Regions from separate parts of the Homo sapiens genome. Here all the other regions are reported to be linked to region 5. The links are microRNA targets in miRTarBase. Many come from high-throughput screens and were not tested one by one. Region 5 holds a microRNA gene; each other region holds the end of a gene's coding sequence.

Evidence for each region. Region 5 holds the annotated microRNA hsa-miR-4700-5p (UCUGGGGAUGAGGACAGUGUGU, at 2,749-2,770, shown strand). A microRNA usually pairs through its seed, bases 2 to 8, with sites in the 3' UTR of a target mRNA and lowers its output. Matches are read on the target gene's strand: a 7mer-m8 pairs with bases 2 to 8, a 7mer-A1 pairs with bases 2 to 7 and ends in A, and an 8mer does both.
Region 1: the mRNA of FAM193A is a reported target of hsa-miR-4700-5p. Seed matches in the 3' UTR shown: 7mer-A1 at 4,425-4,431 and 7mer-A1 at 4,372-4,378.
Region 2: miRTarBase lists ANGEL1 as a target of hsa-miR-4700-5p. Seed matches in the 3' UTR shown: 7mer-m8 at 4,321-4,327.
Region 3: miRTarBase lists RNF144B as a target of hsa-miR-4700-5p. Seed matches in the 3' UTR shown: 7mer-A1 at 4,599-4,605.
Region 4: miRTarBase lists GDE1 as a target of hsa-miR-4700-5p. Seed matches in the 3' UTR shown: 7mer-A1 at 2,705-2,711.

Annotation. Positions count from the first base shown.
Region 1 is chr4:2,729,933-2,736,376 of GRCh38, reverse strand. It overlaps FAM193A (family with sequence similarity 193 member A), which reads right to left. Exons shown (of 21, transcript NM_001366318.2): 21 at 3,804-4,602. The coding sequence ends at 4,509. Among named protein-coding and RNA genes, the nearest start is that of TNIP2, 23 kb to the left of the region's middle.
Region 2 is chr14:76,784,102-76,790,545 of GRCh38, forward strand. ANGEL1 (angel homolog 1) reads right to left here. Exons shown (of 10, transcript NM_015305.4): 10 at 1,908-5,287. The coding sequence ends at 5,127. VASH1-AS1 (VASH1 antisense RNA 1) reads right to left here and starts at 2,623. Exons shown (of 2, transcript NR_104184.1): 1 at 1,984-2,623. RefSeq lists an enhancer at 721-770.
Region 3 is chr6:18,463,248-18,469,691 of GRCh38, reverse strand. It overlaps RNF144B (ring finger protein 144B), which reads right to left. Exons shown (of 8, transcript NM_182757.4): 7 at 6,312-6,401; 8 at 822-4,765. The coding sequence ends at 4,625. Among named protein-coding and RNA genes, the nearest start is that of MIR548A1HG, 56 kb to the left of the region's middle.
Region 4 is chr16:19,498,425-19,504,868 of GRCh38, reverse strand. GDE1 (glycerophosphodiester phosphodiesterase 1) reads left to right here. Exons shown (of 6, transcript NM_016641.4): 6 at 1,252-3,176. The coding sequence ends at 1,399. It overlaps TMC5 (transmembrane channel like 5), which reads right to left. Exons shown (of 22, transcript NM_001261841.2): 22 at 5,756-6,444. It also overlaps the pseudogene RNU4-46P. Among named protein-coding and RNA genes, the nearest start is that of TMC5-AS1, 14 kb to the right of the region's middle.
Region 5 is chr12:120,720,454-120,724,486 of GRCh38, forward strand. MIR4700 (microRNA 4700) reads left to right here and starts at 2,740; the gene lies at 2,740-2,813. It overlaps UNC119B (unc-119 lipid binding chaperone B), which reads left to right. Exons shown (of 5, transcript NM_001080533.3): 5 at 1-3,187.

The sequences.
Region 1 (6,444 bases), not on the chromosome of region 5:
ATTTCTTCTGGAGTCAGTTCTTGTAGCTTCTTCCTGTCTAGAAATTTGTCCATCTCATCTGCTATGGTTTATATGTTCATATGTTAGAACTTAGTGCCCAAGGTGATAGTATTAAGAGGTGGGGCCTTCTGGGAAGTGTTCAAATCATGAGTGCTCCATCATCATGAAAGGGATTACAGCTTTTATAAAAGAGGTTGAAGGGATCACCTTAATTCCCCTTTTTGCCCTTCTACCATATGAAGATACAGCAACAAGGTGCCACTTTGGAAGCAGAGAGTGAGCCCTTACCAGACACTGAATCTGTTGGTGCACTTTGCTCTTGAACTTCACAGCTTCCAGAACTGTGAGAAATAAACTTCTATTATTTATAAATTACTCAGTCTGTGATATTTGGTCATAGCTGCATGAATGGACTAAGATATCATCTAAATTACCAAATTTGCTGGCATATAATTGTTCTAGTATTCCTTTAAAATCCTTTTTCTGTGTGGCCAGTTCTGATTCTAGTAATTTGAATCCTTCCCTGGTCAATCTTGCTACAGATGTCTATTTTGTTTACCTTTTTAAAACTTTTGGTTTTGTTGATTTTCTCCATTATTTTTGCATCCTCTATTTCATTAATTTCTGATCTAATTTTTATGATTTTATTCCTTCTGCTTACTTTAGGCCTAGTTTGCTCTTTTTCCAGTGTCTTAAGGTGACAAGTTAGTTTATTGATTTGAGTGAGATCTTTCTTGTTTCTTAATATAAACATTTTCAACTTCTGGGATACATGTTACTATTTTTCAATTTGGGAGGTTTTCGACTATTATTTCTTTGAATATTTTTTTTGCTCTTTGCTCTCCTTTTGATATTCCCATTATACATAGGCTGGTATGCTTAATGGTGTCCCACATTTTTCTGAGACTCTTTATTTTCATTATTTTTTTCTCTATGTTCTTTGGCTGGCATAATCTCCATCAGCCTATCTTCAAATCCACTTATTTTTCCTTCTGCTAATTTTAAAATTTAGGCTGGGTGCAGTGGCTCATGCCTGTAATCTCAGCACTTTGGGAGGCCAAGGTGGGCAGCTCACCTGAGGTCAGGAGTTTGAGACCAGCCTGACCAACACAGTGAAACACCGTCTCAACAAAAAATACAAAAATTAGCCAGGCATGGTGGTGTGTAACTATAGTCCCAGCTACTGCGGAGGCTGAGACAGGAGAATCACTTGAACCCAGGAGTTGGAGGTTGCAGTGAGCCAAAATGGTGCCACTGCACTCCAGCCTGGGTGACAGAGCAAGACTCCATCTGTCTCTCTCTGTGTGTGTGTATATATATGTGTGTGTGTATATATATGTGTGTGTATATATATACACACGTAACTTTTCAGATTCCATAATTTCCATTTGGTTCCTTTAAAATAATTTCTATATTCATTTGATGCAGCCTTATTATATCATTGTTTTCTTTCTACTACCCACTAGTATTCCAGCTATGATGTTGCTCCTCAGGGTGTGTAGCTTTGCGTATGCCCACAGTCACCCTGGGATGACAGTCATTTTGGTAGAGTTCTCTTCCTCTTTCCCTGACCACATTCATTAAACCACTAATTGCCAATTCTATTGTTTTCAACAATGCCCTGGGGCACCATGCTCTACAAACAAATCCAATCAAATTCTGACTCCTTTGAAGAGAGAGTTTCTGGGAACACTGTGTGATATTCCTTCTGACCCCTGGATGCCTTCTCCCAGCTCTTTTCTTCAGTTACCTCCTGCAAACTATCTGGCCTGTAGCTGAGCCTGCATCTTGTCTCTCTTCCCAGGGTTTCATGGCCTCCACTGTTTCTGAGTGCCTTCAGGCTTGAACCTCTTCATTCTTTGTTGCAAACAAAGTCAGTTTCTTTGGGAAGAGATTAGGAGCTATCTGTTTTACTGCCTGTTTCTCTACCCAGGCAAAATCTCTGAGCAGGGCTCAGAGCTGAGGGTGCAGAAAACAGTAAGCTTCTCAATACAACTGTTCACTGTTAAAGTTTCCTTTCTAACTATTGTTATTGTTTCATTTCATGACTATTACAGGTTGAGTATGCCTAACCCGAAAGGTTCCAAAATTCAAATCCTTTTGAGTGTTAAGATGATGCTCCAAGGAAATGCTCATTGGAGCATTTTGGATTTCAGATTTTTGGATTAGAAATGCTCAATTGGTAAGCATGATGTAAATACTCCAAATCCAAAAAAGTCTGAAACTGGACACACTTCTGGTACTGAGGATGCCAGATAAGGGATAAGGGATACTCACCCTGTGCTACTGTGTGAGTCAAAAATGTGAGGCTCCCCTATGGCGGCCCCACCCTCCCCCACAGGGAAGTGATGTCATCAGGAACCCCAGGGGCTCCCATCAAGTCAGGGACCCTGGAGCTGGATGTCCTATAAGCACCCTGGGATGCTGGAAGGATGAGTGGTTTCCAGGGAAATAGAGGAAGATCCTTCCTGGCAAGGGCATGGCCAGGACAATGGCTGGGAGCCTGAGGGCCAAAGCTAGCAGGTGCAGGTCAGGGGCCAGAGCGGGCAGAGCTGTGAAGCCGCAGGCAGGGTTGCCATGGAGGTGATGGGAGTGCCCAGAACTGGGCATGTGCGGTGGGCGTCTGAGGGTCTCTAGGTCCCAGCATGATGCTTAGTGTGTCGGGGCACCCAGAGTTCCCCATCACCACTCAGGGCTGTGCAGTTCCCCTCAGCAACAGGCATGGTTCAGCACAGTGTTAAAGGCTGTCCATGGGGAGAGCAGGGCAGGTACTGGGGGCCTGGGCAGGCAGCTTCCCCATAGGGCGAGGCCCGGGCCTGGGCCTTTCCCCAGCCACCACCGCAGCCAGAAGAGGCAGCGGCTGGAGTCCCGGGGGCCTGCACTGGGGTTTCAAGGACACTACTGTTGCCGTGGTCATGGCCTGACCTGCTTCACTCTCTGCCCTATCATCCCACGAACAAAGGAACGTTCTCTTCCTCACACCTGGAAAAAAAAACAAGTGAGGAAAGTTCGTCGTGCTGCACCTCCCCTGGTTGGTGACCCTTTTCCAGCTTTCGTGCAATCTCCAGAGTTCTAGGACCTGCTGTCCCCACCTCATTCTCCTGCAAACCGGTGCCTGGGTGGGGGTGCCCTGGGCCTTGTCTCCCCTGACCTGCCTCGAAGCCTCCTCACCCTCCTCTGCCTTCCTGGTTCCACAGCTCGGGCCCCCATCCCATCTACTCACCCCTGCAGGGCCCTCACACAGGCTCTGTCCATGAACAGCAGTCCCCAGTTCCAGACCTCTCACCTGGGTGGCCGGTGGACATCCCAGACTCACCATCCAGAACTGGTCTCCAGTCCCACCTCCAGGCACACAGCGCAGGTCTTCACCTCTTTCTCCTACCTGCATCCTGTCCACCAGGAAATCCTGTGGCCTCATCGTCCGAATACCTCCAGAAGCTGGCTCTCCCTACCCTCTCCCCAACCAGGCCCTGCCCTATTCACCTTCACTCAGAGTGAAGTCATACTCTGATAGGGCACACAGAGACAGGCTGAACATGAGGCTGGGAGAAGTGGGAGCTACTGAGTGTTCTAGGTAGTAAGAAGTAACCAGGATGCAGCTCCTTGGGAGCTTTCTGTCTCCTGCTGCCTGCTCTGCCTGGCACACAGAGGATGGTGGGGGCACCAGGATGGGTGAGCCGTTGCCTGGAGAGACCTGGGACCTGCTCCGGGGTGGTGCCCTGGCTCCCCATGGCGGACACATCACCTACACGCCCTCTCCCGCTATCCCCCCACTCCCCCAGCAGAAAGAAGCAGCCGAGGTCTCCTGCTGTACTAATGTATTCCATCTTTCAAAAAGAAAGACATGATTTTAATATTACTTAACAATATGTTAAAAAAGTAGCCAGGCAGGCCTCCGTGTTAATACAGTCGTACACTCTATAACAGACTTGATGGTGTGAGTACTGGGTGGGCTTGTTTTTAACTTTCTCGTTCTGCAAGGGATCTTACACAAGCTGGCTACAAGTCAGGGGGATCAAACACAAACAGCGCAACGTGTACACTCGGAGACAGTAGATTGTGGAGAACAAAGGAGGCCTGCCCCGCCCAGCCCGCCTAGGGTGAGACGCAGGGGCACAGGAGAGCTGAGTGACGGCCGATACCCCGGTGAGGACACATGACAGGACAGGGCGCAATGCAGAGGCAACGGAGCCACGTGGATGATGCAAACTCCTATCTGGCCACGGCCCAGGCCTCCGAGGCCGCGGTGGTGGGAGGACTTGGCGGGAACTACTGTTCCAATCCGACAGCACAGAGCTACAATCGAAGGAGTCTCACGCACAGACTACACGCACACGAGCTAACGGCGTGGGCCGAGCATCAACTTCTCGGTCTGGGGTTTCAGGCAGCACCAGCTCCGCACAGCCCTTGGCAAGCACCACGGCTCTGGGGCGCCAGCGAGGGGCGTGGCTCTTGGGGTGGTGCAGCCTGGCCTGCCTCTCGCGTGTCCCTCTCCAGGGAGTCCTCATTCAGTGGGCAGCAAAGGTGGCTTTTTTCAAGCTAAAATTGGACCAGTTGATAGACAGTCTTTGTCGGGTCTGTCTAGCAGAATCCAAGCAGAACCTGCAAAGACAAAAAGCCAAACAGTCACTGAAGGAAACAGCCCACAACCAAGCTGGTGCTTGGCAAAGCCCATCACACTCCTGTTCTTGCCAGAAACTCACTGCGGGGTCAGGGGTTTAGATTCTCGGTGAGGGGCACAGTGTCAAGGGTCCCCTCCAGGCCCTGCTACAGGCTGCACTTGAGAAGGGGAAAGGACTCGGGAGGAGGAATGGGTGGGCGGAAGGAGTCCTGAGAAAGAAAAGAAACGTTTAATCTGAGAGCTGTGAGCGCCCTTAAATTATCAGGCCCAGGCAGGGTGTGGTGGCTCATACCTGTAATCCCAGCACTTTGGGAGGCTGAGGAGGGCAAATCACTTCAACTTAGGAGTTCGAGACCAGCCTGGGCAACATGGTGAAATCCTTTTTTTTTTGAGACAGGGTCTCACTCTCTTGCCCAGGCTGGAGTTCAGTGGCAGTTTCGGCTCACTGCAACCTCCACCTCCAAGGTTCAAGCAATTCTCTGCCTCAGCCTCCCAAGTAGCTAGGACTACAGGCATGTACCACCACACCGGTTTTTTTTTTTTTTTTTTTTTTTTTTTTGAGAAGGAGTTTCGCTCTTGTCATCCAGGCTAGAGTGCAATGGCACAATCTCAGCTCACTGAAGCCTCCGCCTCCCACGTTGAAGTGATTCTCCTGCCTCAGCCTCCCAAGTAGCTGGGATTACAGGTGCCCACCACCACGTCCAGCTGATTTTTGTATTTTTAGTAGAAAGAGGGTTTCACCATGTTGACCAGGCTGATCTGTACTCCTGACCTAAAGTGATCCGCCTGCCTCGGCCTCCCAAAGTGCTGGGATTACAGGCGTGAGCCACTGTGCCTGGCCACACCTAGCTAATTTTTAATTTTTTTCAAATGGAGTCTCTGTCACCCAGGCTGGAGTGCAGTGGCACGATCTTGGCTCACTGCAACCTCTGCCTCCCAGGTTCAAGCGATTCTCCTGCCTCAGCTTCCCAAATAGTTAGGACTACAGGTGCATACCACAACACCCAGCTAATTTTTGTATTTTTTGTAGCTTCTTCCCTGGCCAAGAAGCTTTTTTTTTTTTCTTGACACGGAGTCTTGCTCTGTCGCCCAGGCTGGAGTGCAGTGGCGTGATCTCGGTTCACTGCAACCTTCGCCTCCCAGGTTCATGCCATTCTCCTGCCTCAGCCTCCCAAGTAGCTGGGACTACAGGCACCTATCACCACGCCCAGCTAATTTCTTCTATTTTTAGTAGAGATGGGGTTTCACCATGTTAGCCAGGATGCTCTCAATATCCTGACCTTGTGATCTGCCCTCCTCGGCCTCGCAAAATGCTGGGATTACAGTCGTGAGCCACCGCGCCCGGCCTCCAAGAAGCTTTTATAGAAAGCAGAGGCCTCGAAAAAATTGTATACACATATATCCTAAATATCAGCTTCTAATTAAGTCAACTTTCAACTCTAAAGCTGTTTAAAAGGATTCCTGTGTCAGGTCTTAGCCAGGCAAATAGTCAACATTCTTGTTTCTTGGTTTTTCCTTCCTGAAACTGACACCAAAGAGGAGATCTGAAGCTGGCCATGGTGGCTCATGCCTGTTTTCCTACTACTTTGGGAGGCTGAGGTTGGAGAATCACTTGAACCCAGGCGTTTGAGACCAGCCCGTGCAACACAGTGAGACTCCATCTTTACAAAAAGTAAAAAGTTAGCCAGGAGTGGCAGTACACATATGTGCCTATAGTCCCAGCTGCTCGGGGCTGAGGTGGGAGGATCCTTGAGCCTGGGAGGTCAAGGCTGCAGTGAGCTGTGATGGTGCCCCCGCACTCCAGCCTGGGTGACAAAGGTGAG
Region 2 (6,444 bases), not on the chromosome of region 5:
GCTGGGTAAGTAAGTGCTGGGGTGAGAATCTACGTAATGAGTCAGGTAGGCTCTTTGTGGACACTGGCCATTTTCTTAGAAAGCAGAAGGAAATGTCATTGCAGACTCCTGGAGGATCAGAACCCGACCTGCTTGGGGGTGGAAGGGGTTACCTCATTTCCTGCTGTCCCATTCCTCAGGCTCACAGCACGCACCTGCCTAATTTAGGCACCTGACTAACTGGGTTAGACCTTTGGGTGCAGGTGGCCCTTCTCAGAGGCCTGACGATGAAGGGGTTGAAGCTCTGCTGCCCCATTTACCAGGAGCTGGCATTTGGACCACTACCGTGGAGGTAGTGACAGGAAGCAGTCATACCAAGAACCAAGCAGAATGGCCCAGAAGCAGGCTGCCTGTAACCCTTAGTGTCTGCCAGCAAGGTGAGGGGACCAGCTGTTGAGGCCTGGCAGAAGATGAGGAGAGGCCACGTCAGGTCAGCTGGCAGGTCACCTCTCTGAGCCCCGTCCAAATGACAATGTGCACACAGATATACAAACTTTTTCCAACCCTGAGCCTGAAAGGACTTGGTTGTTGGAAGCACAAAACCTCCAAGAATTTTAAGTGTAGGCTCTGTTCTCTCCACAGCGAGCTGAGGCTTCAGGCCTTAGGGTCATAGGAGCTGACTGGGGATGGGACAGAAGTGCAGAGTTCCCTCCACAACCCATGAAGTCCACATTCTCTTGCTTCCAGCAGATCTGCACCCTCACCACCATGCTGCCATCTGGCTGGCCCATACCTGGAACAGTCTTGTCTAGCACATTTGCTCAGGAGGGAGAGGAGAGGGGATGGACCAGAGTGATGGGAGCCCAGGGCTGCAGGGCAGCTCCCCCTGGTGGACCCTAGAGGTGGCCCCTCCCACTCCTGGGAGAAGAGAAGCCACACTGTGCATTTCGCAGCCAATCAAAACACAACCCTCCAATAGAGGGCGGAATGGGGTTACCAGAAGCTGGGAAAAGCAGGGGAGGAGAATGAAGAGCAGGTGGATGGTACAAAAATATGGTGAGGACTAAGTTCTAGTATTTGATAGTACAGTAGGGAGACTATAGTTAACAATTTATTGTATATTTCAAAATAGCTAGAAGAATTGGAATGTTCCCAGCACAAGGAAAAGATAAATGCTTGAGGTGATAAATGTCCTTAAATATCCTGACTGGTCATTACACTTTGTACGCATGTATCAAAATACCATATGCAGCCCCAAAATATGTACAACTATCACATGTCAATTTTAAAAAGGAAAAACAAAACAACCAGAACATTCCTCTAGTTAGTAGCTACAACAGGGCAGGAACTGGAGAGAAAAACAAAACAAAAAAAGCAGCAGCCTCCTGACTGGCCATTTCCCTTCTTGGTCTCCAGTTAAAAGCTGCCTCTGAGCTCCCCCAGCCCCAGGCCCCCACCACCAGCCTCTGCCTTCCAAGATAACCTGTCTTGCCTGATCCTGGAAAGGCTTGTGAGAAACTTGGGGTGGTAAGAAATAAACCAAAGGAGATTCTCAAATTCTATCTCTGGGATTTCTGTTTCCTCAGGTGTAAAGGTAGAATCTGAACACCACCTAAACTGCCACCACACAGTGCCACTGTCTTTGCTAGCTGACGTGGAAGTACTGTGCAAACTTAACAGAAGTGCTGTGGAGATGCTAACTGACTGAGGCAACTAGGAGGAACCCTCCCTGCCAGGAAGAGGTTCTTGGGGATATACCTCAAAGCTTAGGGCTTTCAAATACTTCCTAGCCAATGGGCCCAACTGTCCAGCCTGGCTGGGGTAACGATCTACTCCCAACTCCTACCAATAATTCTCTGGAATTCTTAGCACCTTTTTCTTGCCAAAGCCCAAACAAAGCAATTTCAGATCTGAAAATTCTTCACAAGTAGAAGTGATTATTAACTTTAATTTCTATTTCACCAAGGAATGTGAACTGAAATACAGAGAGGTTAAGTAACTTACCTACAGTCACCAGCTGAACAGGCCAAGAGGACAAATGATGTTTCTAATTCCTAGCTGAGTTTTCTTTCTTTTCTTTTCTTTTCTTTTTTTTTTTTTGAGATGGAGTTTCACTCTTGTTGTCCAGGCTGGAGTGCAATGGCATGATCTCGGCTCACCACAACCTCCGCTTCCCAGGTTCAAGCAATTCTCCTGCCTCAGCCTCCAAGTAGCTGGGATTACAGGCATGCGCCATCACGCCCGGCTAATTTTGTATTTTTAGTAGAGACGGGATTTCTTCATGTTGGTCAGGCTGGTCTGGAACTCTCGACCTCAGGTGATCCACCCGCCTCAGCCTCCCAAAGTGCTGGGATTACAGGTGTGAGCCACCGCACCCGGCCGCTAAGTTTTCTTTTTACTAAATCAATTGAGGGGATCGCAACCCAGGTAGTGCAATGGAAGCAACCAAGTGGCTTTAAATCAATCAGATTCTCAGAGACTGATTCAGAGGCCTGGTGTGGGTTCTGGGAACCTGTTCAGGTAAGACAGAAAACCAGATCTGGTTTCAGGGCTCCCAGTGGGCATGTGGGCTTGGCTGGTCTTACTACATAGGGAGGTTGGAAGACAAAAGCACCAACAGAGGTAGGCCTAGGAAGGAAGAGACATTTTTCCAGCGACAGATGGCCCACTGCTCAGCCCTGGCTCCAGAATGCAAAAGAGATCAGAAATAGATGCTCAGCAAGAGGCATGTGCCACCCGCATCATGTCTCATGCAGCTGCCATAGCTTTAATCAGGAAAACACACATCTTATCCCACTTTGCACAGACCCTCCTGAAGTGCAGAAGATACTAGGAGGAGGCATGGGGGGAGCAGATGGAGGAAGAATGAAAAGCAGTCCAAAGAATCATTCTCTCACTTGGGAAGGACAGAAGAAAGCTGTACCCCAGCAGTGTCAAGGCAGGAGGCTTCACTCAAGCCCTGTTCCTCCCAGGCCTCACAGCAGTGGGAATTTACCTCAGCTAATAGAGGGAGATCTTACAACACATTTCTCAATCTAGATTCATGTCTTGAGACCCCACCCCAAGATCAAAAGCTCCTTAGTCTCTTCCTCTGCCCACCTCATTCTTCAGGCCCTCTCTCAAGGACCTAATCCCTTCAGGATCCTAATAAAATGAACAACATTGGGGGGAAAAAAGGTAAACCTTTATTTGGAAAAAGAGTTTAAATAACAATTTAAAACCCCATTTCACTTTCAAAACAGAAACAAGAAAGCAAGGAAAAGATAATCTATCAAGCATCTGCCCTCTGCTGTGGTTAGCCATTTTAAAGCTGCATTTCCCAGCAGAAGAGAACAGTGATGGGCCCTAGTCCTAGGAACCCACAGGGCACTGTCTTGAGACCCTTTTAGGCAGTGTCCAGGGAACAGACAGACAGAATGAATGGTGGGGTGTAGACAGACCTGGGGCTCAGACAGGCACATGCCCAGTACCCAGGAAACAAAGTTTGAAAATATATACACATAGAAAAATAAATTCCCTAGAACCTAGGCATGGAAAGCTTCTAACCATGAATGCAGCAGCACAATGCAAACTGGGTCTTTGGCTTTCAAAAAAAGGAAAGAACCTTAACCCCTGGCTTACTGTCCCGAACTCAAGTCTCTTGACCACTGTCTTCAGTCCCACTTTGGAGGTCGAGTGAGGCAAGAGCAAGTCAAATCTACCAGGGCCAGCAGCCACTCTGACTTAGGGAGATGTGTGGAGGGGCTGGCCCAGGATCTCCCAAGGCCACACCCCAGCAATGAAAGATTAAGGCATGCAGGTGACACAGTGTGGACTAAGGAGTCCCCTGAATAAGCCAGGGTACCCTTCTGTTAGGGGAGGGAAAGCAGACGCAACAAGCAGCTGAGGCCTTGCTGGACAGAGCCAATCCGCAAGTACTGCCACTTCAAATTCTTGGACCAGTTTTGTCCAAGGCCACCTTTCTGCTGAGGCAGTTTGGCCTGAGCTAAATACCAGGGTTTTCTAGAAAGGAAATGGAAGGGAAGCGGGAGATGGGAGATAGCAGAAAGTAAAAAGTGGTGGAAGGAGAGGAACAGAAAATTGCTTCTTAGGAGTGGAGAGGAAAGAGAATCAGCTTAGGTCTTCAGTCCCAGCTGAGGCAGCTGAAGAGTCTACCTGCTCCTTCCCCTACTGGAACTCCTACCCTTGCCCCAGTTCTGCAGGCTGCAGAGTCCAGTGAAACAAGAGTTTCCTGAAGACTCTTTCTCCTCCTAATCCTTAAATAGTTTTAAACCTCATACCACTACCCTAGCCCAATGAACCCCACATAAGGGTTCAAACTTCCGCCTCCCTCAGGGAAGCCTGGGGAAAGGGATGGCCCTTGTGAAATTACACCAGGTCTGTGGGGAGCTCTGGGTTGGAGGCACAGGGCCAGCTGGGACAGGTAGCGCATCCCCCAAAATTTGCCACTCCAGGATGTGGGCCCCATTTGTTCCCAGAGCCCAGACGCCGGGCCTGCCCTGGTTGGCAGGATGAATGCCTAATGAAACACAGAGGCTAAAAGGAGAGATGGGGCCATGCCCTGCTGCTGCCTGCTCATACATAGGTACTTGGGTAGACTCTGAACCTGCCCCAGGCCTACAGCCCCAACATGAAAAGTGGACTGGTCAGAGGCAGGCATGGCTGTGCAGAAGTCTCACCCCAAGAGGACACATACATGATATGCATATCTCACATATGCATGCCTGGCAAGAGGGCTGGGCCCAGAAGTCCTGAAGGCAGGGAAAAGGTCAGGTCAGAAGGTACATCAAGAAACGGCCTGAAAGCAAATAACCAATGAAATCAAGAACTCCCATAACCCTGGTAATTAAAAATCAAGGGGGAGCGCTGGATACATGGAAGGAAGGGGGAGCCCCCCTTCTGCCTCTCCCAGGGCCACTGAGTGTGTGGCACAGGATTAGGAAGAGGCTGGGGTGGGGCAAGGACCACAGGCAGAGAACGCAGCCAGGCCTGGAGAAAGTCTAACCGTGGGAAAAAGGGAACGAGGAGGGGGAAGGGAGGGGATGTAAGTTTCTTGGATCTAAGTTTCTAGATGCATGGGATTTTTCCACAGTCTCTGATCCAGTGAGCTCTTCTGGAAGAGAAGCTCTCTTCCCCTGGGAGCCCTGTCATGGGGCGGTGACTTCCATCCCGAAGCTGGCTAGCAGGCAGAGGTGGTCTGAAGAGCAGAAGGGGTTGGGTAAGCCATTGGCAGCCCAGAGTATCTCTTCAGAGAGAAGGGAGAGACGACCCAGGAGCTTGAGAGTTCCATCTCGATACAGCCTGTGATCTGGGGCACAAAGCAGAAGCCAATGGGTAAAAGCAGCCGCAGCCACACTGCATGGGCAGGCAGTGGCAGAGTCCTTTGGGAACGCCTTCTGCAGGCTGCATCCCCTTGGCTGCCCACTGCCCCTCACCTCCTCTTGCAGCATCTGGCTGAGGAGGCCCCATTTTCTCAGAGATACTCCATAATATCATCAACGAATAAAGACAGGTGAGTTCCGGGGAACTGGGGCAAGCTGGAGAGCCCACCATTATAAGATCTTTTGATTTTCCAAGAGAAGCTAGAGATCCAGCTTTTCTATATAAAATCTGATTTTTTTTTTTTTTTTTTTAGATGGAGTCTTACTTCGTTGTCCAGGCTGGAGTGCAGTGGCGCAATCTCAGCTCACTGCAACCTCTGACCCCCGGGTTCAAGCGATTCTCCTGCCTCAGCCTCCTGAGTAGCTGGGATTATAGGTACCCGCCACCATGCCTGGCTAATTTTTTTTTTTTTTTTTTTTAAGACGGAGTTTTACGCTTGTTGCCCAGGCTGGAGTGCAGTGGCACGATCTCGGCTCACTGTAACCTCTGCCTCCCGAGTTCAAGCGATTCTCCTGCCTCAGCCTCCCAAGCAGCTGGGATTACAGACACCGTCACCACACCCGGCTAATTTTTTGTATTTTTAGTAGAGACGGGGTTTCATCATGTGGCCAGGCTGGTCTCACTCCTAACCTCAAGTGATCTACCCACCTCGGCCTCCCAGAGTGCTGGGATTACCGGTGTGAACCAGTAATACACGTGCCTGGCCATAACAGTAATACACATGCCTGGCCAAAAAGAAACATTCTTTACACAATACAGGCATGGGGCTGGGAGATTGCTATACTGTGCCCACTGGTATGGGGAGAGGAGACAGAAAATAAGGTCTCTTACCTAACCAAGTCCCTCATTCAGTGGCTGTCATTAAACAAACTCAACCAATTCCTAGATCTCTATTTTTACCTCTAAAATGGGGATTGGGAGTGACTGTCCTACCCTCCTCTCTTTAATGCTGCAAGGGTAAAAAGAGACAAGGCAGGCAAGTGGCCTATGGGGAGAATGATAAGGATGACCAGTGCAAGGGAGGTATGAAATCTGCTCCTTTGCTGGTTAAATCCCAGCAGCTGAAGACATGCTACCAAATGC
Region 3 (6,444 bases), not on the chromosome of region 5:
TTCAAATGGAAATGACCTTAACACTCTTAAATCCTTTCTTAAAAAATCATAACAAGGAAACACATGCCTCTAGCAGACTTTTGGAAGGTTAGAACTGACCTTAGCGTTTAGTCCAACCTTTATTGTACAGAACAAATGGCTTTGACACTTGGCAGCATTTTTTATTAGAATGATCAAAGATCTGTATTATTGGTTATTGCTCTGGATAATGATGAGTTCCTATGCACTGGCAGTGTGGACTATCACACCTACAAAGAAGAAAGTGTGTAACAAAGGCATTACACTTGCCACCCCCCCACCCCCTTTTTTTTTTTTTTGAGACCGAGTTTCGCTCTTGCTGCCCAGGCTGGAGTGCAATGGCACAATCTTGGCTCACCGCAACCTCCACCTCCAGGTTCAAGCAATTCTCCTGCCTCAGCGTCCCAAGTAGCTGGGACTACAGGCATGTGCCATCATGTCCAGCTAATTTTTTTTTTTTGTATTTTTAGTAGAGACAGGGTTCTAATTTTTTGTGTTTTTAGTAGAGACGGGGTTTCACCATGTTGGCCAGGCTGGTCTCGAACTCCCGACTTCAGGTGATCCGCCCACCTTGGCCTCCCAAAGTGCTGGGATTATAGGCGTGAGCTACCACACCTGACCCCCTGACCCTATTTCTTTTAAGAAGTAAAGTAGCCAAGAGTTATTTCCATAGATGGTATTGCAAATTCTGGTACATTTTGTAAATTCAGAACCTAGGATTTAACAGTAACTTGGTTGGTTCTCAAAGGATAAAACTGAACATGCCTAGAATTGTGCAGCGCAACAAAGGTTAACACACTTGATTTCCTGCTTACATTTATTGTGGCTAGAGAGCCTAAACAGCTATTTTCTTCTCCAAAAATTGGAAAAATATAACACGATAGCAATTTTTTAAATACATAAAACTTCCTGGATCATGAATCAACATGAGACATAATAGCCTGTAGATATCAATTGTGATCGCTTTATAAAATGTCATTCATCTAATGCATTTCTGAAATTGCCCTTAAAGCTACACATACACACATGACTCTATATCACATAAAGGCATCCATTCATGAACAGAAAGAAAAGTCTTTTATTAGTACTGTGTAGGGAAGGCTAAAGAAATATACATTTAATTCAGAATAATTTTTAAGAAAAAACGTGGGGTTCCAAGAAATGGTGATTTACATTCAAATGAACATGTACATTTGCAAACCTGGATAAGTAGATATTTTCATGAAGCACGCTACAAGAAAATTCACACAGAATTATTTGTTTTTCAAAGGCCTCTTTCAAAGTACAGACTCCAAGTCCAAAGCAAATACCCATGGCATGAACAAATAGGATGCCTAAGATTCTAACATTTGCTTCGGCATGGCTTTCCTCCTCACTTCCCTACCTCACAACAAGAAAAAATTTCCTAGATGGGACAATGGCAAGATATTGTGCTAATACGTTTCATAGGATTTCTAGATGCTGGGCTATAACATCCAGGTTACAATTTGGTGACGGATTTTTTTATTTCTATTGCAAATGGACTACACTCCAAACACAAAAAGATTCTTGCCATAGCATCCAAACATCCCTATGTAGACCCACACTTCCTCTCAATACAGAAAGAGAATCACTCAGAAAGGACAAAGCTGGCAGACCAAGAAAGGAGGCAAGGGTAAACTCTGTCACTGGCCAATTATCTAAAACAAAAATAGCAGCCTCTGTTATCAAAGTTGTCAGTTAAAACTGTCAGCTGTCAGGCACAGTGACACACACCTGTAATCCCAACACTTTGGGAGCCCAAGGTGGGTGGATCGCTTGAGCCCAGGAGTTTGAGACAAGACTGGGCAACACAGAGAAACCCCATCTCTACAAAAAATACAAAACTTAGCCAGGTGTGGTGGTGTGTGCCTGTAGTCCCAGCTGCTCAGGAGGATAAGGTGAGAGGAACACTTGAGCCCAGGAGGTAGGGGTTGAAGTGAACCATGATCATGCCACTGCACTCCGGCCTGGGTGACAAAGGGAGACTCTGTCCAAAAAATAAAAATAAAAATAAGTCGCCAGCTCTCTCCTTTATAAACAGTCTTTAGACTGGTTTGTATCATGCCCCTTGATGTACCAGAGATATGTTTAACCAACCTAGTTTTGTTGATTCTGACAATCTCACACACATTTAAGAATTTACCATTTTTCAGGCACTTTTCAATGTTAAAAAAAATTAAATCCAATTATTGAAAATCAGTTTGACAAACAACCCCCACTCCATAGCCCTGGCAAAAAAAAAAAAAAAAAAACAAAAGCAGCTAATTCAGTGATACAAACTCTGTAAGGTGGCAAATTCCCTCAACTCGCCAAGGAAATAGCACATATTTATTTTCTCCCATCTTTACTCCAAATTTGGGACCTCTTCCTCTGATAACACAGTCTTTTAGGTTACTTGAAATCAGCCCCCATTTAAAGACTCTTTGCAGCACCAAGCTTAAAGAGTTTACTGACAGAGGACTTTGCCACTATTAACATTCTTGTTACAAAAATTCAGTTTCAGTTGAGTTCTCGTAATCCCCTGAGCAGTTATAAATGCCTTTTACCTATAATGAGGCAGTGGGCTACGTGTAAAACAAAGCAAATTAACTATTCAAATATATGTAAATCTATAATTATACTAACATGAACTACACTGATAGTGTTTTTTTCTGAAGTGTTTAGAGTTTCAAAAGAAAAAGACACAATATTGAGAAATTTCTAATAAATGATTAAAAATGATTTTGGTTGGTTGCCATTCCCAAGTTTTCCCAGAGTTCTCATCTATGTTCTACACAACATGTAAATTAAAATGTACATAACCAACAGATGTACTATACACACATCAGATATCAATATATACTTGTGAATTAAAGTTCCTGAAATATACACATCCCCACTTAGGATATATCCTATTACATAGGCAAAGCATCATCCTTTAACAATAGGTCCGAGATAGCAGCAATTTGATATTCTATTACCCAGTTACCTCAGAAAATATCATAGATCCTGAATAGTTCCTGATATGGTATCCCTGGCTTCAAGAACTCTCCAGTAACATTTAGCATAGGTCTCATGAAGCACCAGGCTACATTGCCAATAGCAATTATATAATCCTGTCATTGGAGAAAAGGTTTTATCCTTTCAAAACCTCGTTATTCAAATCTGACTAATGGTATAATGGAAAAAATAAGTCACAATGAGGTGATACATAAATTTAAACTAAATTATATAAAGCATTTCTATTTTATTTCTTACATGTTTTTGTTGCGGTTTTATCAGTGCCTTGAAACAGAAAGTATTCAGACTGTCCTAACAGATGCTGAAAGAGCAATAATGATGCTGAGAAAAGAGCTATTCTGTGTTCGAAAACATGTAAATGACTCGGTTATCAATTAGCGTTTTTACAGAGATGGCAGGATATTGTACTAAGCACTGTTTTAAAAGAGTTATGAGTCTATACCCTTGGGTAAGTTATGAACTTACAACCAAAATTCACATATATAATATGCAAAAAATCTTTAGGCAGATTTACAATAAACCATTTCAGTCACAAAAGGATAGAATGGCTCTTAAGTAAACATTTATTTTGTGTGTACTATTGGGTATATCCATGCATGCTCAATGGATAGAAATTACAGGTAGGCTGCAAGTCACATGGATTCTAGATGTACATAATACGCACTTTAATATTTACCCTCCATGTGTACTCTTAGGCCTGATTCCAAATCTATTGGCTGTGTGAACACAGATCCTGAGAAAGGTCCCAGATATCTATGACGAAAGTTTTGAAACTCTACCACTCTACCCGTATTTTATATGAAACAATTCTGTAGACCACAGCCACTGGCTGTAAGAGACAAGTTGGCCAACTTAGAAAACTTACATTTGCCAAGGGAGAGACACTAAATTAGACCACATTGTTTAACAGGCTGCAACTCTTTTACTGGGAAGGGGCAACTCCCTCTGCACAGCAGTTTCACCTGCTTGAAGCTGAGATCACACAAGGAGAAGCCTATTGTGTTTCTGCCAAATCACAGCGGGAACATGGGGACAGCACACCCAGTAGCCAGCAGAGGCACAACCACCATATCAACTGCTGAGATCAGCAGCCTGCTTTATAGCTCCTATGAGGATTTCTCCTTACGCAGTCTTATCCTTCTCCTCATCAGGTTTCCCCTGTGTTTCTCATGGCAGTCAAATCAACACAGAACAGACTCCAGCTTCTTGGTTATCTTGTATGTTGCCAACAATGACAACACATTTGTTATATCAAATGTTCCCGCAAGCTCCTTGAATTTGGCTGGAAGTTGAACAGTCCAGTGAGATCCTTTGGATGATAAAATGATATGTTCATTCATCTCAAGGAACCCCAAAGCTCCATAGAAACAGCTGGACCGTTGAGCCCAGTTCTTGTTACACAGGAACACTCACACCCAGGACTTGGCCTTTCCTGATGCTGAAGGCTGGCAGGCAAGTTCAAAGTCTGGACACGGAGGCACTTTCAAAGTTGGCAAGGAGAAGGAGGCAAGGTCACTAAATGGGGCTTTATCACTGTGCCATCTCATGTAACTCACATATCTGGGGCGTATGAACACAGAGATCTTTAGGTTGTGGATGGGTCGTGCTTTTTCTTCTTGCCCCGACAGGACTTGCAGACACAACAGATTATACATGGGGAGGCCAGGAGTAACAAGGGTGAAGTAACCAAGGCAATGATGCCCAAGCCTACGAGAATCCCCACCACCTGGAAATTTCAAAGAAAAGCATATTTCAGCAATTAAGTCTTTCAATATGTATACTTATTCCAACTATACTGTTATCTGCTGTGGGCCAAATGTTTGTGTCCCCCTGAAGCTCATATGTTGAAACCCTAAATCCCCGATGTGACGGTATTTGGAGACGAGGCCTTTAGAAGTTAGTTGGTTTATGAGGGCAGGGCCCTCATGATGGGATTGGTGCTCTTACAAGAACAGATGCCAGAGAGCTTGCTTTCTTTCTCTAGGCTCTATGCCATGTGAAGACACAGCAAAAAAATGGCCATCTTCAAACCAGGAAGAGAGCCCTTGCTAAGATATGACCATGCTGTCACCTGAACCTCAGACTTCTCAGCCTCCAGAACTATGAGAAGTAAATTTCTGTTCTTTAAGCCTCCCAGTCTATGGTCATTTGTTATAGCAGCCTGAACAAGACATCATCTCAGGCACACAGAACAGTTACATTTCTGGGACCTTTCAGCTAGTGCCCAGCAATGATCTGAATTGGAGAGAAGCCAGAGAGATACAAAGGACCAAATCAAGGATGGAAACCATCCAAATGCTAACTCAAGCTGTCGCAAGCTCAGTATAGTCATGAATTATTGGTATTGGTGCTCTCTCTCTACTTGAATTTCCTCAACTAGCTCAAAGGGATGTTAATGATTACTAGGATATTAGCACTGACTCCCTCCAAAGGAATACCGCCTTTAATAAATATAAAACACTATTAAAAATTAAAAATAAACCATGACTCCTTTTGAACCTGCCACATAAACACACAATGGCATGTACACAGGGATCTAAGCCCTAGAAGGGGCTCACAGGGTTTTAGAGCACTGCCTGATATGGTTTGGCTGTGTCCCCACCCAAATCTCATCTTGAATTGTAATAATCCCCACGTGTCAAGGACAGGGCCAGGTGGAGATAATTGAATCATGGGGGTGGTTTCCCCCATACCGTTCTTGTGGTAGTAAATAAGTTTCATGAGATCTGATGGTTTTATAAATGGGAGTTCCCCTGCACAAGCTCTCTTGCCTGCCACCATTTAAGACATGACTTTGCTCCTCCTTTGCCTTCTGCCATGATTGTGAGGCCTCCCCAGCCATGTGGAATTGTCAGTCCATTAAACCCCTTTCCTTAATAACTAACCTAGTCTCAGGTATGTCTTCATTAGCAGTGTGAGAACAGACTAATACACTGCCTTTGATAGGTAATATGCCTTAAAGGGCTTTAGGAAAGTCATTCCACTGTTTCTCAAGAGGAAAGAACATCTGCCTGCATTCTGCACGTCACTGTTGACTGCCTGGCAGCTCTGGTGCCCCTGTTTCTCCGCTTGTCCTTAAGGAGACTGTGCTCATGAATTAACTTTAGGTATTTACCCCATTACTTTTCCCTAGCCCTGCCCTAACACTCCCCAGAAGCTCCCAGGCTGGGATGGTACCTCCCAGGAGGGAATAATGAGGAAAGGCGAAGAGGTGGGCTCTTTAAGCCATCACGATTTTGGTTTATGTCACGCTCCCTATAAGGTCAGGGTACCTGTGTTCGGTTCCACATCACTGATGCTCTTGAGTGGCCAAGTTTATTCCTGCATGGCCCTTTGTCATAATGTCTGAGGAAAATGTCATTCTGAAAAATAAAAAGATTGATTTCAGTAAATATGCAGTTTTAA
Region 4 (6,444 bases), not on the chromosome of region 5:
GTTTTTTATTTTACCCAGACAGACATCCTGAATGCTCTTATTTGAAAGGAAGGATTAACAGAGTAGACAACCTGAATTGGTTCTGACCTGCAAAGCTTACCATACCTCTAAATTGGATTACCAATTTCGCTTCTTAGGTGGGAAGAGTTCAGGCATATTTCACTGTTTTCAGACCGAGTCGATCACATATTTTCGGTTTTTTAGTGTATTTTGAAGAAAAAAAATGAACCTGTGACACTATGCTGAGCAAGGGATTTTATTTCTGTGACTGGTTTTTTTGAAAGCCAACACAGGATCCTGGGCAGAACCACAGTGAAGACATCCTGTGGGCACCAGCCTCCCCACTACCGTCTTATGTTATAGGCACTCCCCCACCTCTCCCCATAAAATTTCCATTTCCTAACCTGCTAGCGATCTCGGAATCATTTCTTTGGCAATTCTGTATCTGTATATTTCAGCTAATTAGAGTTGTAGGTCTAGTATTATTTCAGACATACATGATTCAGTTCAATAAATATTTGGTAAGTGCCTATACTATTGCAAGGTTCCATGTTGAGAAGCTGAAGATGCAGTGGGTAAAGAATCAAAGCCATGATCTCTGCCCTCGTGACGTTTATAGCCAAGTGGGAGAGTGAGAGATGCTAATCAAATAAAAATCCAATCAATATAAAGTTAAAACTAAGATACAGGCTATGTCAGAGAAAACTGTGCATGGGCTATAATCTAATCTGGTCTGGGTTGTCAGAAACAGCATCCCCAAGGAAGTGACAGTTAAGCTAAGATCTGAAGGGTGAGTGGGAATTGGGAGGAATCCAGATCAGAGAGAAAAATACATGTAATGTGCTCTGGCAGGAAGGAACATGGTTCTTTCCAGGAAGTGAAAGAAAATTAATATTCTTTCAATTAATTTAAAATTAATCAGCACAGAAAAGAAAGGGGGAATGTGGTGTGAGATGAAGCCAAGGAGACAGGTCGGGGCCAGGTCAGGCACACCTTCAGTGGCTGTGCCAAGGACATTTGGGGGTGGCGATCATTAGTGAGCTACTGAAATGTTTTAAGCTGGGACAGTGTAGAGGAGGTTCATGGCATCCTGGGTTTTGGAACAGTCCCTCTGATCACAGTGCAGAGGCCAGTTAGGAGGCATTCTCTGGGCACCATTGGTATGCAGTGAACACCATACTTAGTGGCCATTATGGATTCCTGAGACAGCTGCTTATTATTCTAACAGGATTGGCTTTCCTCTTTCCCCAGGGCCTACTTGAAGAAGTGGTCAGCTAAAGGAATCCAGGTTGTTGGTTGGACTGTTAATACCTTTGATGAAAAGAGTTACTACGAATCCCATCTTGGTTCCAGCTATATCACTGACAGCATGGTAGAAGACTGCGAACCTCACTTCTAGACTTTCACGGTGGGACGAAACGGGTTCAGAAACTGCCAGGGGCCTCATACAGGGATATCAAAATACCCTTTGTGCTAGCCCAGGCCCTGGGGAATCAGGTGACTCACACAAATGCAATAGTTGGTCACTGCATTTTTACCTGAACCAAAGCTAAACCCGGTGTTGCCACCATGCACCATGGCATGCCAGAGTTCAACACTGTTGCTCTTGAAAATCTGGGTCTGAAAAAACGCACAAGAGCCCCTGCCCTGCCCTAGCTGAGGCACACAGGGAGACCCAGTGAGGATAAGCACAGATTGAATTGTACAGTTTGCAGATGCAGATGTAAATGCATGGGACATGCATGATAACTCAGAGTTGACATTTTAAAACTTGCCACACTTATTTCAAATATTTGTACTCAGCTATGTTAACATGTACTGTAGACATCAAACTTGTGGCCATACTAATAAAATTATTAAAAGGAGCACTAAAGGAAAACTGTGTGCCAAGCATCATATCCTAAGGCATACGGAATTTGGGGAAGCCACCATGCAATCCAGTGAGGCTTCAGTGTACAGCAACCAAAATGGTAGGGAGGTCTTGAAGCCAATGAGGGATTTATAGCATCTTGAATAGAGAGCTGCAAACCACCAGGGGGCAGAGTTGCATTTTTCCAGGCTTTTTAGGAAGCTCTGCAACAGATGTGATCTGATCATAGGCAATTAGAACTGGAAGAAACTTCCAAAAATATCTAGGTTTGTCCTCATTTTACAAATGAGGAAACTAAACTCTGTGGAAGGGAAGGGGTTGCCTCAAAAGTCACAGCTTAGCTGGGCACAGTGGCTCATGCCGATAATCCCAGCAATTCAGAAAGCTGAGGCAGGAGGATTACTTGAGGCCAGACTGGGCAATATAGCAAGACCCCATCTCTAAAAAATTAGGCATGGTGGTGCATGCCTGTATTCCCAGCTACTCAGGAGGTTGAGGTGGGAGGATCACTTGAGCCCAGAAGTTCAAGGCTGCAATGAGCCATGATTACACCACGGCACTACAACCTTGGTGGCACAGTGAGAACCTGACTCTTAAAAAAAAAAAAAAAAAAAAAAAAAAAAAGATAACTAGAACTTCTAGAACATCTTGTTTACAGTTAGCCAGAAACTATACAAGTGGTTTAACATGCATTATCTTACTCAATCCATACAAAAGTCTTATGGAGGTGTTAGCACTCTTTCTACTGATGAAGAACTGAGGTACTTCATAAAACCACTTACCCAAGGTGTCTTGAGTCTGGTACAACTGGCATTCAAATCTAGGTCAGTCTGCCCCCAGAGCCACTACCCTTACCCCTCACTGAATCTGCCTTTATATTGTTGAGCCCATGACCCCAAACTGCTCTTTCCAATTTGAACTTCCAGGGATTTTATTGTGAACTTACATAGCAACATTAAAATGAAGTTGAATTGTTTTTAATGGCAACGCCGTCTGTCTCCTCTAGCTTACCGCTTCTCACCTTTCAACCCCATCTGTGGCCTTTGTCCAGGCCCACAGCTTAGCCATGGCTTCCCTCCTGCATCCCTGCCGTGGGTTGCTGGCCTCACACTTGCAGCAGCTGGACAGTGATTTTAGAAGGCCACCAGTCCCCATAGCTATGTGACAATGAGAAGCAAACTTTTTTGTGACAGATTGTATTGGCATAGGCATGATAGATGGGGATTGGTACGTTTTGAATCAGCATTTGCAAAAAAATTGTCTTGAATTTTAAAATAAACAACAAAGATTTGTTCATTGAGTGCAACAAATGTCTAAACTGCATGTACTTCCGTGCCATGTTATGACTAGAGTGAAAGGAGGAGGAAAAAGTGACCAAAGAAGATACATCAGGCCAGGCGTGATGGCTCATACCTGTAATCCCAGCACTTTGGGAGCTGAGGTGGGTGGATCACTTGAGGCCAGGAGTTTGAGACCAGCCTGGCCATGATGGGGAAACCCCATCTCTACTAAAAATACAAACATTAGTTGGGCATGGTGGCACATGCCTGTAATCCCAGCTATTCAGGAGGCTGAAGCAAGGAGAATTGCTTGAACCCAGGAGTCAGAGGTTGCAGTGAGCCAAGATTGTACCACTGCACTCCAGCCTAGGCCAGAGAGCAAGACTCTGTCTCAAAAAAAAAAAAAAAAAAAAAAAAAAGATACCTCTGTTCAACACTAGCTGTTCAACAGGCTGTTCAACACTAGCCTGGGCAACATAGTGAGACCCCATCTCTACAAAAAATTTACAAATAGGGGCTGAGATGGGAGGATCACTGGAGCCTAGCAGGTTGAGGCTGCAGTGAGCTAGGATCGTGCCACTGCACTACAGCCTAGGGGACAGAGTTTGACTCCAATCTTTAAAAATTTCATAATAATAATAATATCCCTTTGTGTTGTGGGAAGATCTCTGGAGAGCCATGAGATCTCTGTCTCTTGATCTTTATCCCAAATCCATTTTACCTTTGATTCAGCCAGGCCAAATTAAGGATTTAGGTCCTATGCTAAGATGGTCAGGGCCTCAAAAGGTGGAGAATTTGAATGATGAAATAAGGTATTAATAACTACTATTAAGCACTTCCTTGGAAGGCTTAGTATAGGGTTAATAACAGGATTTGGAATCAGAGAAAGCCAAGTCTGCCTTCCTATTCAGCAACTTACCAGCTATATGACCTTGGGTAAGTTACTGAATTTATCTGTAAAATAGGGGTAGTATTCTTGCGGTGGTAGTGATTAAATGAAAGAGTGCATGTAAAATCCTTGCTAATTAACATTTATTGACTGCCTACCATGTCCTAGACTGTTTAAAATGCTTTCCATGTACAGTAGTTTCTTTATTTTTTGAGACAGTCTCACTCTGTCACCCAGGCTGAAGCGCAGTGGTGCGATTTCAGCTCACTGCAACCTCTGCCTCCTGGGTCCAAGCAATTCTCCTGCCTCAGCCTCCTGAGTAGCTGGGATTACAGGCGCTTGCCACCACGCCCGGCTAATTTTTGTATTTTTAGTAGAGATAAGGTCTTACCATGTTGGCTGGGCTGGTCTCGAACTCCTGACCTCAGGTGATCCGCCCACCTCAGCCTCCCAAAGTGCGGGGATTACAGGCATGAGCCACTATCCACTGCATGTACACCTCCAGGAGAAGCAGGGCTGCACTGAAGTGGAGACAAGGGATGGAGGTGAAGGGAGAAGCATTCTAGATGGAAGCACTTAGCATCTGGTGAATGAGCAGAAGTGATGCTTTCAGAGAGAGTTCAGATTTCATTGTAGAAGCCCAAGCAGCAGCCGGGCATGGTGGCTCACGCCTGTAATCCCAACACTTTGGGAGGCTGAAGCGAGCGGATCATCTGAGGTCAGGAGTTCAACACCAGCCCAGCCAACATGGTGAAACCCCGTCTCTACTAAAAATACAAAAATTAGCCGGACCTGGTGGCACGCTCCCGTAATCGCAGCTACTCGGGAGGCTGAGGCAGGAGAATCACTTGAACCCAGGAGGGGGAGGTTGCAGTGAGCTGAGATTGTACCACTGCACTCCAGCCTGGGAGACAGAGGGAGGCTCCAACTCCATCTCAAAAAAAAGCAAAGAAAAAAGCACAAACAGCACTAAGATGACCCCAAGGGGAATAAAATCACTTCCAACATCACTTCCATGGGTTGCCTGCACTGACCCCACAGACAAGTCTCCCTTAGTCCCTGTGCTTCTTCAGAGCATCTACTACAACTGTAATTAATTATTGCTTAAGAATTAAATTCATGTCTAAACCTGCTAGACAGGCAGCACCATGAATTGTTCACCATCTTGCTCACCACTATTTGGTCCATATTTGTTGAATGAATGGATGGATGAACACTACATACAACTGTTACCAAAGATGACACCAAAAGAAATTAATTCCTCCGATGAAGTGAATTAATGAAAAAAATAAGTGAATGAAAAAGTGCGTGGTCAAGTGCAGTGGCGTGTGCCTGTAGTCCCAGCTACTTGGCAGGCTGAAGTGGGAGGACTGCTTGACCTAGGAGTTTGAGTCAAAGCTGGCAACACAGCCCAGCCTTATCTCTTAAAAATAAAAAAAAAAGGGAATAAATGACAGCACTGGTTGGGTGCTTGTGTTTCGAATGTATCTTAACTGCTTTCTAAATTCAGTTCCAATTAGGTTTTATGCGAGTGATTACTTAAGAGGAGGCTCCTCTCTCCTGAGTAACTGCACCTTTCTGCTGGACCTTTCAGTGTTAAGAACAGCCACGTGGCTTGTGAATCATTTGGCAAACCTGCAAAAACATTATACACACACGTATTCATTACATATGTGCACACACACACACATTCCACACATCACCACCAGTTTCATATTTGGTTTGAATAAGACTTTTAATTTACTTTATTTATTTATTTATTTATTTTTTTGAGGCAGAGTCTCACTGTTGCCCAGGCTGGAATGCAGTGGTACAATCTCGCCTCACTGCAACCTCTGCCTCCCAGGTTCAAGCAATTCTCCTGCCTCAGCCTCCCGAGTAGCTGGGATTATAGGCATGTACCACCACGCCCAGCTAGTTTTTTTATTTTTAGTAGAGACGGGGTTTCACCATGTTGGCCAGGCTGGTCTTGAACTCCTGACATTAAGTGATCCGCTTGCCTCAGCCTCCCAAAGTGCCGGGATTACAGGCATAAGCCATCGCACCCAGCTAATTTCTTTTCTTTTCTTTTTTCTTATTCAGTCTCCGTAGAGACTGTCAAAAATTGCCAGCGCTGATTATATTTCAAGTCATCACGGTGGGGTATTGGGAAAATTTCCAATTAGCAATAATCGCGTCTCGGATAAATCTCATTGGCTACGGTACTGCCACTGCAAAGCTAGCTTGACGTAGGACTTTGATGGTCATGTATAACACCTCACAGGGGCAGAACCTCCTCCATCCCCGACTCCAAAGACTCATGTAATCAGTACGCAAGAAAGTTCAGAGATGAGACCTCTGGTTGTATTCCACCTTTGGGACATGGGGGATGTCTTTAGTTCAAAGTCACAAATAAATGCAGGTTC
Region 5 (4,033 bases):
CCTCTTCCAGGTAGCTCCTCCTCTCACCTCCGGCATTGCCATCAGCGCAGTCTGCCCTCGGTCTGTGTGAAGTCTTAAACCAACTGGAAGACACTTGAAAGGGTGGGGAGGGAGGGAGGTGCCAAGAGTGGAGGCACCAAGGAATGGGTGATGCTGCCAAGCTGAAGGGTCTGCTTTGTGGAGAGGCTGCTGCTCTGTCTGACTTCCAGGGTCTCAGCCAGCCCTCCTGGGAATAGACCAAGTTTTCAGCCTGGCAGTGCCTTCTGTTCCCATTTTGGAGGACAGACAAGCTTGCTCCACATCTCCTGGCTCCTCCCTTCTGAGTCTCATGAAATAGAATGAGTCAGCTCTGCTCATGGAACAGTAGTATCTCTTGAGGCCAGAGCAGGTCTTGTATTTTGTTTTTTTATTTCCAGACTTCTTTCGGGGAGGTTTTATAAAATGACAGTGGTGTTCCCAGCATATGTGATATGTGGTTAGACTTCTGATAGTATCAGCTTCCAGGGGCTAATCTGGCTTATGTTGGGAGGATATGCTTACGAATCAGCAGCAGCTTTCTAAAGGAGAGATTTGACTTTTCTCTGCACTGCACAGCCTGGAGGATTGGCTTTTGATGGGGATTTGCCTCCGAAGCTCTTTGTACATTTCTTGTTTAGGAGGGTTTTCCTATCTACCTTTCTACTGAAGTAGTTTCTGGAACTTTCCTGGTGGATCAGAGTTACGTAATGCAGTCTGAGCCTTCAGACTGCTAGTTAGAATTGTTTTAGGTGTTCAGAAAGGGCAAAATAGGCTGATGTGGCCTGTCAGAGTGATGTGTTCTCAAAAAAGTTCACTTGCACATCTGTGGGCTGCTTTTGTCCTCAGACCCTTAGTGGACAGACTCCACAAACCCTCTGATGAGACGATTGATGTGGCCAGGGTCCAGTTAGCATCAGTAGAAGGATGTCACTAGGAAAGGCCCAGGTATCTGGTAAGTGACTGTGAGGTGTCACAGTACCTGTGACAGGAGAGTGTCCTGATGTGCTTGGGAGAAAGGCCGTATGGGGGCCAGGGATGGAAGAGACAGTGTGTGGCCACAGAAATTCCTGTCCATCCACCACCAGTGCTGCTCCCTGTGTGGGCTTTAGGGCGAGTGGCCCCGAACCTTGGCCCAGTGCTTTGTCCCAGGCCAGAGTCTTGGCAATGCCACATGCTGGCAGCTTTCTCACTGAGAAGGTCCTAGCTTACCCCTGTGTGCTGGCCTTGGATTCAGCCCCGAGAGAGGGGAGAGACCATTCCTCCTGTGGAGTGGGTTCCTTATCACCAGACCGGCCACTCTCAGAACTGGCGTCCACTGTAAATCCAGGTGCCTTACGTGTGGCTCTGTCCCTTATGCTGCAGGGGAAAGCTGCATTGCCATTGTTCCCACCTCCTCACTGGCAGAAAGATGCCAGGGCTGTTAGCACTGTCTCCTCACCTTCTGTTTCTCATTGTGGCTCCTCAAATGGGATTTGCATGTTCCTGTCAAGCGTAACAACAATCCCTTCTCTCTTTGACAGAGGCCCAGGTGGGACAGTTTCTACTATTTGATATTTGAGTATTATCTGGGATGTGGTTCTGGAGCTGCCCAGAGCTGTGCTTAGTAGAGTGTGTCTTGGAAACATGCCCCTGGGCACACTGTATCTGCTACATTAGTGGGCTATCTCTTATCTGCAGTGTTCGCTTTTGCTAGAAAGAGGATGTGGAGGAAGGAGGAGGTGGGCAATCTGGCTTGAGTTGTGCTGTATCCTCTTCCTTGTTAGCTTGCCTTAGTCTCACTGGAGACCATTTGCGGATAGTGCTTGGTCCATGCCCAGCAGGACAGGGCTTTGCTGCTTCTGAAAGTCTGGTGTTCTGTATCTGGGGCTGTGGGTTCCTGTGTCTAGCTGCTCAGGAAATCTTGAGAAGCATTCCACTCTGGGGTGTAAACCAGTATGAGTTTGAAATTCAAGCGTTTGTACCTGAGTTGGGGAGAGAATTGCAAGGCATACTTTCTCTGAAAGTAACAGAACCATTCAGGCTGCCATGTTATTAAGGAATCTGAACTGTTGATAGCAGTTACCTTGTGGGTGATACAATGGGAGGCGGCAAAAAAACTACCTGCATAGGAGACCCTGCCCTTTGTCAAGAGCTGGGAGCACATTTCATCAGAGTAGCAGGCCCACCTGGTGCCAGAGGGCCTGCCCCTCCTGCTTCTGTTCCTTTGCCTTGCAGTCTCCTGGAGAGAGCCTCTCTTTTCCTGTACAGCCTTTGGGCCAAAATGCCCTTCTAGCTTCTCCAAAGAAGATCCGAGTTTATTTCATTCTATGTTTTAAGAGGTAAAAGGACATAACAAGTGAAAGAAGTTTTGGGCTAAAGTAGGCTATGTCTCCTTATGTATTACTCAATACTGTTTTGCAGAGAAAACATTTTTCAAGCATGTGCTTCCTGAAGACACCTCAGTCTTTGGGCCATTTGATTTCCAATACATAGGGTGGAAGAATGTGATTTTGGGGCTGACCATAAACTGGAAATTTGTGAAATGGCAGTGATTGGGCAATCTTCAGTTTATTTTTTCAGTTGAAGTGGAACTCATTTCTGGAATGGATTTAATAGGCTGTGTCTAATGTACAAACTGGGTGAGTCCTGCCTTAGTGTGTCCTGCCCCACCGGTACGCTTCCAGGATACTCTTTTCCCCTCTGTAAAGTCACTTTCTTCTGATGGCCAGTGTCACTATGATGTCAGTGAGGTCTGGGGATGAGGACAGTGTGTCCTGAAATTCACAGGACTGACTCCTCACCCCAGTGCACGAGGATTCCTGTGGCATCAGGTGCTGCTGTACCTGGTGTAGGAGCCTAATCATTGAACCATTGTGTTACTCACATTCCATGTCACAGAACATATCAGCCTCAAGAAGGATTTGGTGGAGGTGGATTTACCACTGGTTTTACAAAGGACCGTGTAAAGTCATTGAAGTTGTGAAAGTCTATTTTTTTTCCTGTAAATCTATTTTTTACAGAATATAAGAAACATCAATGACCTGATCTGTCCTTCCTCCTCCTTCCCGCTTCCCCCAAAATCACATTCCAGTTTTTATTGTCTTTGTGTCCAAAGTAAACTAGGTGACTTATTTGTATAAAATGTTATTTTGCCACATGAGACAGTAATAAAAGAAAGATTTTCACAGTACGTCTCCCTCGTCCTGTCTCCTGATTGTTGGGCCCGTTGTGTTGCTGAGGGGAGCAGGGGCGAATGGGGGCTCCAGGTTTCTCTTACTTTGGCTATTATGTGGCCCTTCTGTAAGTAGTTGAACTAGAGTATAGCTGGCTTCTAGGGTGATTGAGGAATTGTACTGGACTTTAGGCTTAATATTTTTGCTTTATATTTTCCCAGGGTGAGTGGCTTTGTAAATTGAAAGTTTACATGCATGTTTTAAAGGTAGGGTTTTTTTTTTTGAGATGGAGTTTCGCTCTTTTTTCCCAGGCTGGGATGTGATGGCATGATGGTGGCTCACTGCACCCTTCGCCTCCCGGGTTCAAGTGATTGTCCTGCCTCAGCCTCCCAAGTAGCTGGGATTACAAGTGCATGCCACCACGCCCGGCTAATTCTGTATTTTTGGTAGAGACAGGGTTTCCCCATGTTGGCCAGGCTGGTCTTGAACTCCTGACCTCAGGTGATCAACCCGCCTTGGCCTCCCAAAGTTCTGGGATTACAGGTGTGAGCCACTGTGGCTGGCCATAAAGGTAGGCTTATTAAGAAATACTTTAACTACAGTAAAATTTACCTCAATTAAGAGTATTGATGCATTTTGACAAATGAATACTTTTATTACCCATCACAATCATGATATAGGACATTTCCATCGTACCCACTCAGAAAGTTCCTGAGTTCCTTGTGTTTGCAGCCAGGTGACTTCCCCCACTTCGCCTCTTGCAACCACTATCTGATTCTGTCTCTATTGGAAAACTTGGATACTTTTAAAATGAAATTTGAACGTTCATATTTACAGTCACAAATTCTCAAGAGTCTGGTTTA